Linked DNA regions of Homo sapiens: region 2 is linked to region 1. The links come from fine-mapping of genetic effects on gene expression. A gene starts in region 1. The other region holds a variant in brackets. All regions are shown on one strand. Distances are between the middles of the regions.

The links. PIP is the estimated chance that this variant, and not a neighbour inherited with it, causes the effect.
Region 2: its variant is the best candidate, but not a certain one, in a credible set for the expression of APCDD1L in cartilage (Steinberg 2020, PIP 0.58).

The regions. Positions count from the first base shown.
Region 1 is chr20:58,512,791-58,517,175 of GRCh38, reverse strand. APCDD1L (APC down-regulated 1 like) reads left to right here and starts at 1,777. Exons shown (of 4, transcript NM_153360.3): 1 at 1,777-2,517. The coding sequence starts at 2,469. It overlaps APCDD1L-DT (APCDD1L divergent transcript), which reads right to left and starts at 1,797. Exons shown (of 7, transcript NR_034147.1): 1 at 1,436-1,797. RefSeq lists an enhancer at 2,176-3,174.
Region 2 is chr20:58,544,436-58,548,820 of GRCh38, reverse strand. APCDD1L-DT (APCDD1L divergent transcript) reads right to left here. Exons shown (of 7, transcript NR_034147.1): 6 at 893-1,009. Among named protein-coding and RNA genes, the nearest start is that of APCDD1L, 31 kb to the right of the region's middle. RefSeq lists an enhancer at 2,259-2,760. The variant T/C (reference allele first, on the strand shown) is at 2,804.

The sequences.
Region 1 (4,385 bases):
TGAACCCCCATCAGCCGCCTGGGACTTTGAAATACCCACATCCGGAAAGCCCAGAGACTGAAGTCTCAAATGATTATGGCCAGAATAGCATGTAGTTTTAACTTTTTTTTTTTTTTTTTTGAGATGGAGTTTCACTCTTGTCACACAGGCTGGAGTGCAATGGCATGATCTCAGCTCACTGCAACCTCCGCCTCCCAGGTTCAAGTGATTCTCCTGCCTCAGCCTCTGGAGTAGCTAGGATTACTGACGCCCGCCACCACGCCCAGCTAATTTTTGTATTTTTAGTAGAGCCGGGGTTTCACCATGTTGGCCAGGCTGCTCTTAAACTCCTGACCTCAGGTGACCCACCCGTCTGGCTCTCCCAAAGAGCTGGGATTACAGGTGTGTGCCACGGCACCCGGCCTTAGCATGTAGTTTTTAAACTACCCATAATTGTAAATTTTGTACATTGAAAGACCCATAATTGCCACAAATAATCACAATTATGCAAGTATAAATAATCACCCTGCACAACTCTCCTCTTGCCCACAAAGTTATCCCTTTCATGAGAATTTAATATGTGACAATGGCCATTGTCTGCCAGGGAAAGCTCATACCGATTTCAGTTTCAGCAAGGCCACCTCGAGTCTCATAGAAACCAGAAAAAAAAAATGTCATTTTCAGGAAGCAAATTGATCGTTTTCCTCACATTTCCATTTGCGTTAAGATCATGGTGTGGCCTTGCTCTGGACTTTTTCCTATTCCCTGTTGCCTCTGGAGAGGAGGAAAGCTAAGGATGGCTGGTGGGCCCACATCGGGGGTCCCTGGGTGGATTGAAGGGCTCTTGTGGCTCCTGGAAGCCTCGCCCAAGTTTCTGGTAAGAAATCAAAAGGTGAGGTGGTGTCCCCTGTTCCCCTGTGGGATGATCAGCCCACAAAAGTGGGACAAATGAGTCTATAAAATGCTTCAGAGGGGCAGGTGGACTGCTCACTCGTGAGTCCCGGGAAACAGGCCTGGCCCAGTTCTCCAAACCTTTCCCCAGGGAGACCGCATCTCTGTCTTCTCTCTTCTTCTCTCTTCTCTCTTGTTCTCTCTTCTCTCTCTTCTCTCTTCTCTCTCCCCCTCCCTCCTCCTTCCTGGTTCTCTTTTTTCTGTTGATTTCACTCCCTCCTTTCTTTTCCCTTTCTCTTTCCTCCCCTTTCTCTCTCTTTCTCTGCCTGTTTCCCCTTTCCTCACTTTCATTTCTCTTTCTGTCTCTTTCTTTCTCTCCCTCTCTCAGGTCTCTCTTCTCTGTCTCTCTTCATCCTCAGTTTTCCCCTCTCTCCCCTCTTACTTTCTTTCCCTTTTTCCTTTTTCTTTCCATCTTCTTCCTCTCCCTCTCTGGGTTCGTGGCAACACAAGGAAACCCGCACATCCCCAGCCCGCAGCCTCGCCCCCTCGGTCCCACTGCAGTTACCCGGTGATCCATGCAGGTGGGAACAATCCAGTTAACTTTTCCCATCCGAGTGATTCTCTTTCTCTTCTTCATTCATAAATGCCATAACTCTCCCGGTCCTCCTTTCCAAGGCTCGTGCACTTGATTTCAAGGCTTGCCTGCCACCCAGGGTGCCACCAGAGTCCCAGTGCCTGGGTTGGGGGCTGGAGCGCACCCTTTGGGATCCCCCAGCCTGTCCTCCGCCTCACGGCTGCCTCGCTTCTGAGCTGCCACCCTCAGCTGACTCACTCAGATGAGATTTGGGAGGGAGGGGGGCAGGAGGAGGAGTTGCGAGAAGGAGGAAAACCCGCCTGGTCGGGTCCACACTTTGCCTAGATGCGTTTGGGTGTGGTGGGGAGCGGGTGACGGCCTCATTTACAGACAGAGGCCGGGGCTGGCTTCTAGGCGACCGGGTTGGCCACTTTCACTGCGCTTCTGGGTTTGCTGGGATCCAAGTTGACGCGACTTTTCCAGGAGTAGCTGGAAGACCTGAATAGAAACTTCAGGGGTCCCAGGACTGGCGGGGCTTAGAGGAACTCCCCGCCCCGCTTGCCCTTCCAGGGAACGGCCTGGCTAGGGGTGCGCTTTGACGCAAGGAGCGCATCGCTCTGCCTTGGCCGGGACCAGAGCTTGGGGGAGGCCTCCTTGCCCACTGCGAAGACTTTGGGGAAGGCGACGGCCAGGGGACGGACATCTGGGGGAGGGCTGGGGGTCTGAATGGCAGGAGCTGCACCAGGGGGCTGTGCGCGCTGCGCGGGTGTGCGCGCCTCGCCGGGGGCTGTCTCCACCTCTTCTGGCAAGTTGGACCTATGAGTGCGCAGCTCCGCTTACAACTATCAACAGCCGGGAAGGCTGAGCGCGTGTGAGCGCCGAGGGGGGCGCAGGACCCTCGCAACTTCTTCGCAGGACTCCAGCCTGGCCGCCGGCGCCCGCAGCCGTCCGAGAGCCCTGCGCCCGCGCCTCCCCTTGCGCACCGTGGCAGCGCCCGGCGGGCGGTCCTGCCAGCCCCGACGGGATGCCCGCAGCCATGCTCCCCTACGCTTGCGTCCTGGTGCTTTTGGGAGGTAGGTGCCACCCTCCCCCACCCGGCAAACTGGCTGAGCTCGGAAGGGAGGGAGCTCGCCGTCTAATGTCCCCTAAGGGCCCTTGGGGACTACGGCCCTGGGTCGGCCCACGCGGCTGCTATGCTGCGCCCTGCGCGCCTTTCTCCAGTCTCACCTGGCCGGCACCTGCGCGCCTCCAGGAGCTTCCTGGGGCCTGCGGGAGGGAGTCGCGTCACCTCGCAATATGAGAGCCGCTGCACTCTCTGCGCCAGTCGGGGCCTGGCCTGTAGGTACCCAGAGCTGCCCTTTGTGCCGGGCCCAGTGGGACCGGGGCCTCCAAGAAGATGCAGGAGGATCCCAGGCCCACTGAGACCCCCATGGTGCGGGACAAGCCCGGCTATTCAGACCAAGGTTACTGGGGTTGTTTTTGCCCACGGAATCCTGACCTGTGCGGGGTCGGGGCTTCTTCCTGCAGCAGGACTCGGGGAGAAGCTAGGGAGCGCGCAGTGACCCCAGGCTCGAGTTGTGCCCAGCAGGCCTGACAAAGGGGACCAAGGGGCTTCAGGAACCCCTGGTAGAGTAGTCAATGCCTTCTCCAGGACTAAGGGGTTCCCTGGTGGCTCTTCGTGGGGGTGGGGAGTAGGGTAGACAAAACTGTACAAAGGCCAGCTGACTGGAGTGTGCCATCACAGGGGCCCAGTCACCACTGACAAAAATGACAGTAACCACAGTTGAAGTGTGCCCAGCTGGGGGCTCATCCCCAAGCACCCTCACATTATGAATGGCTGAGAATTCTGGCCCTGGAGTTAGACCACCTGGCTGGGAAGCCCAGATCAACATCATATCAACCCGTCTGGCTTTGGGTAAGCATGGCCATCGGCTCTCTCAGCCTTGACTTTCTTTCCTGTCAAATGGGCTCACAAAATCCCCTCCTCCGTCTGGGATGATTGTGAAGATTACGAGAGCACGTGCAGGAGGATCACTCCACTTGCTGCCTGGCACTGAGCTCATGTTCAGGGAATGGCAGCCGAGAACCCCGGGGTGAAGAGGGGCTGCGCGGTCCCACAGAGCACGCTCTGCTCCATGTATAGGCAAGGAGCAAAGTCTAAGTCACCTCGAGGAGCTCTTCAATCACAGTCTTTTCTTCCCAGCCCCCAAATTTCTAAACAAGCTGTTTTGAGAAGAACTGGCAGGGGTCTGAAGGAGGGTCAGGGGAGGGTGCCTCCGCAGTTTGAAGAGTTGCAGATTCACCTGTCGAAAGGGACATTCATCCAGGGGCCGCTTCCCCTGCCAGTCTGGGAGCGAGAGGTGACACAGCTGTCCTTGGCCACAGAGTTAGTTGATCATCAGCATGAAAATAGACCACCTCACCCCTGCTGGTTCTTTCGAAAGGGCAGGAAAATGCAAACTGGAAAGGGTGACAAGGGGGCCAGCTGTGGAAGCGCGCCTCTGCTGGGTGCTGAGATAGGGAGGACAGGATGGGGAAACCGGGTGTCCATCTGCTCTCATCCGCCTCCTCCAGGCCGTTGCACCCAGTGGGAATGGAACAGTCTAGAGTGGTGGGACACATGCCCCAGGAACCTGCAGTCTCAGTCACAGCACATGGCTGTTGTCTTTGGCAGGCCGGAGCTTCCCGTCATGCCAATGAAATCACTGTGAGTGTAGAGCCGTGGCTGGCTCTTGGGGAGTCTTGCTGCCCAGCTCCTCGGTGACCTTTCACCACAGCAAATCAGACAGATTCAACAGCAGAGAAGCCAAGAGTGCCCGGGGGCCTGACGAGAGAGGGGGGCAGCCTGCCCTCAATTCAGACACAGCCACCAGAAAGGGGGAGGGTGCCGTTCAGCCTGCCACTGCAGCTCCCAGCTCTACACCGGGCACTATTTTCCACT
Region 2 (4,385 bases), 32 kb before region 1:
GGGGAGGGGGTTGGAGGGATGATAGCTCACTACTTAAAAAAATTAAAAGACACAGCAATTGGGCTGAAATAAAACTCTCACCTCTGCCAACAACATCAAAGTAGAGATTAAAGGCTGATTTTCAGATTTAAAGGCACTGTGCTGATGGCTTTGGGTGGGACCCTGTTTCTGCAGAATTACTGGTAATAGCAATTCTAGAAACAGGTTACAATAACAGCACTTACCAGAGATACACTATGTACTAAGGTCTCTGGATGATAAAGTGGATGGAAATAGCTCATTTCCATTCCCAAATTCACTAACAGAGAGAGCAGTTAGCCAGGGCAGACCATGGGTAATGATGCTCGGTTGTCTGTGAATTAATTTCTGGACAGTACTGCCAGGAGCTAATGCATTTTTCAGTGAAGAGGAGTTTCAAGAAATCTTAATGCTAGTGTGGATTGGTTAATCATTATATTTACATCATCTTGGTGGGGTGAGGGGCCAGCTGGGGTTAATGGACATTTTGGAAGATGTGAGAACGCAGCCTTGGCAGGACAGAGATAGGAAGCCATCCATTCCACCCCGGGGCTGAGAAACTCTGCCTGTCCTCTGGACTGCTGAATTGCTGTGCGGTCATTTCGGAATTAAAGATGGATCTACTTTCTGATTAGCAGAGTTCAGCTTCTTTTGTGAAACTTCTCAAACAGTTTTATTCCCTGGTTACCTTCACATTTATTCTCGAATCTCTATTTCGTGGAGAGGTTGGTGTCAGGGCAGAATTGATCCAGCAGCTTACTGTTAACGTGATTTATCAATAGCAGTGTGAGATCGTATACAAATGTGGCTTAGCATTTTGATGTCTTGGCCATGCTTGATGATAAGGTATGCATTACTATAAAAATAAACTTACTGTGGCTCCTGAATGCCTTTGTTTTCCTTTTGCCTGCACAGCATTCCCGGGAAATGATTAATAAGATGTTTCATTTAAGTACCAAGCAATCCAGAAACCGAGCAGGAACACAGGCACCTGGATGCAGGAAAGCTTGAAATTAACAGGCAGCCATAGAAAGTATAAGATTAATTTCATTTCCTTTTCTTATCTTATGCTCTCTTTTATGTCTTTCCCTATGTAAAGGGGGAGATTAATCCAGGAATGATCTTTTTGTTGGCAATTTTATATTATGTTTGACTACTTAATAGAAATCTGAGCTACAGCGAGGCAGGATGCAGAAAGCGTATCCCGAAGGAGGAGAGGGAGAAGTCATTTTGAGCACAGGAGGCAGATTTCACAGCCAGTGTCAAAGCTGGGAGCAGGAAGAGTAAAGCAAACACCACGAGGCATTCATTCATTCATTCATCTATTCATTCATTCCACAGATATTTTCCCATAACGGCCACAGAGCCAGGCTGGGGAGCCTCCGTCATCCAGCCTGCTCCTTTGGGCTGCACCTGATCAAGTTTTTAGGGTGATTTGGAACCAAAATGAAATTCAGTACAATTCAGAACATATTTATTGAGCAGCAGCCATATGTTCAGCATCATCCCGGCTGCGTGGGGAATATCAAAAGGGGGGAGACATGGTGGCTGTCACCAAGGATCTCGCATCTAATTGGGGAGATAAGATACACACACAATACAAGGCAATTATGGTAAGAGCGTACATTTAAATACCACTCTCCTGTTTACCCACATTTCATATCAGCCTCTCTACATTGTTGGAGCCTCTCAACAACTTGGGGAGGGAGGGGGGCAGATATGATAAGTCTCATTTTGTAACTGAGGGATCCGAGGCTCAGCGGGGTCGGGAGGCTTGCCTCAAATCACCCAGCCATAAACAACAGCCCCGGACGTCAGCCAGGGTCGCAGGCTCCCAGCCTGTGGTGTGTTTCAACTAATCAGTTACACTGATTAAATGCCCGGTGGGGGTGGGTGGGGGGCAGCTGCCGGGGCTGGAGAGCTGGCCCTAGCCAGGCCTCCAGCGGCTCCTTTCTGGGGAAGTACAGGTCATGTCAGCCTTGCTTTGAATCCTGCCCCAGTTTTCCACCAAGGAGCCCGATGGCAGCAATGAAGGAGAGCCCCCTTCTCTTATCACCCTACTCCTGTAAGAATCCTATTCCACCTAGAGGGAAAAGAATAGGCAGTGAGTCCACTCAGGTCATCTTGAAGGCAACCCAGGGAATACGTGGCTGACTCAAGAACCCTGGACGTCACAGATTGGTGCCGATCACATGCAGACCACCATTTTACCATCAGGGCAAGCATCAATTTTAGGGTACCATGTTAACAAGGGCACAGATGATGCCAGAACCCAGCTGTCCCCAAAATCCTGGCACAGGGCAGAGCAAGCTGGGGCACACCGTGGGCACTACAGTTGAGAACCTGAAGGAATGAGCCAGGCCCGCCCTGGCTCTCCAAAGGGTGGCCTTCTCGGGCGCTCAGCCTGATTTTGCTCAATTTCTCCTCCTGCCTCTTGTGCTAAGTTAGAAGGACAGATGACATCATTCCTCCTCAGGCCCATTAACCACATGGATCGATGGCAAGAAATAAAATTTGGATTCTTCAAAAATCTCCACAGCAGATGGCCCCAGGAGACCAATTGCAACGAGATTCCTAATTAAATATAATTAAATAAGCATTAAGAGAGAGACTGATGCTCCCCTCTCCACATTACACCACTCTGTGCCAAAGAGTACAAAATTGAGAACGCCATTGTCCGCAAAAAAGCCACAAAGATCATTCAACTCCAGCCTCTGATGACCGAGCTGGGAAAACTGAGACCGGAGGGGCTACAAATTCAGCCAAGGTCTGCAGGATGTGGGGC[T/C]GACGACAAAAAGCTGACTGAGAAACTGACTCATGCACAAGTGCCCATTCTGGGGTCATGTTGTTAGCATCTAAAAGGCCCGGACACTTGCATGCTGGGCGGCCTTGGGCATGATCCTTTAGTCTCTGGGCCTCTTTTTCTTTCTTTCTTTCTTTCTTTTTTTTTTTTTTTAACTGAGTCTCACTCTGTCACCCACGCTGGAGTGCAGTGACGTGATCTTGGCTCACTGCAACCTCCGCCTCCCAGGTTCAAGCAATTCTCCTGACTCAGCCTCCTAAGTAGCATGCCACCACGCCCGCTAATTTTTGCCTTTTTAGTAGAGATGGGGTTTCATCATGTTGTCCAGGCTGGTCTCAAACTCCTGACCTCAGGTGATCCGCCCACTTTGGCCTCCCAGAGTGCTGGGATTACAGGTCTGTGTGTCTTTTCTTCTTCTAAGATCAGTGCCTTAGAAGTATGATGTGAATCACATCCATAATTTTTTATTTCCTAGCCACATTTTCAAAAAGTAAAAACAAATGGGTACACAATCAAAAGAATACAATTTTCGTTATACATTTTATATCACCCAAATCCCAGCATGTAATCAATATAAAAGTTATTGAGTACTTAACACTTTTTTTTTTCACCTCAAGTCTGAAATCTGGTGAATGTTTGACATTTACAACTTGTCTCTGTATGGACTGGCCACATTTCAAACGCAGTAACGAATGGTGACCATATTGGCCAGTGCGGGTCCAGAAGATGGGCCTGAGATAGTCTCTCACAGGTTGTTGTGAGTTGGGTTTTGTTTTTGTTTGTTTGTTTGTTTTTAAATAAACATGATGTGGCTGGGCATGGTAGCTCAGGCCTATAATCCCAGCACTTTGGAAGGCCAAGGTGGGTGGCTTGCTTGAGCCTAGGAGTTCAAGACCAGCCTGGGCAACATGGGGAGACCACATCTCTACAAAACTACAAAAAATACAAAAGAATTTAGCCAGGCGTGGTGGCATGTGCCTGTGGTCCCAGCTACCCGGGAGGCTGAGGTGGGAAGATTGCTTGAGCCCTTTCAAAGGCAGAGGCTGCAGTGAGTGGTGATTGCACCACCGCACTCCAGCCTGGGCAACAGAGTGAGAGTCTGTCTCAAAAAAAATAATAAAATAAAATAAACAATTAAGAAGATAAACATGATGTGAAATGTGCTTAGCAGCATCCTCACGTCTCATTAGCACCCAGTGAATATTAGCTACGATGATTATCAGAAAGCCAGTGTCCACACAGTTCATCCAGAAAGCACGACAGTCCATGGCTCCTATTTACCAAATCTTCTCTTTCAATTCCCTTCCACAGACACAACCCCTAACAGAACAACTGTGGGGGGAGGGATTTCTTTAGTCTCTGGGTAAAGCTATCAAAAACAAATGGCGGCTTCTCGAGCTCGCCCTTAAAGCAATCGGTGGATCCCAAGATTAAAATTCAACTGCAGCCAAATTGTGTTATAAACGGCTTCACTCCACCTGGGGTCTGGACGCCAGGCAGATGTAATCCCCTCTCCTGGGCATACACTGATGGAAACCCCGCCTCACTGCACCAGCCAAAGCCT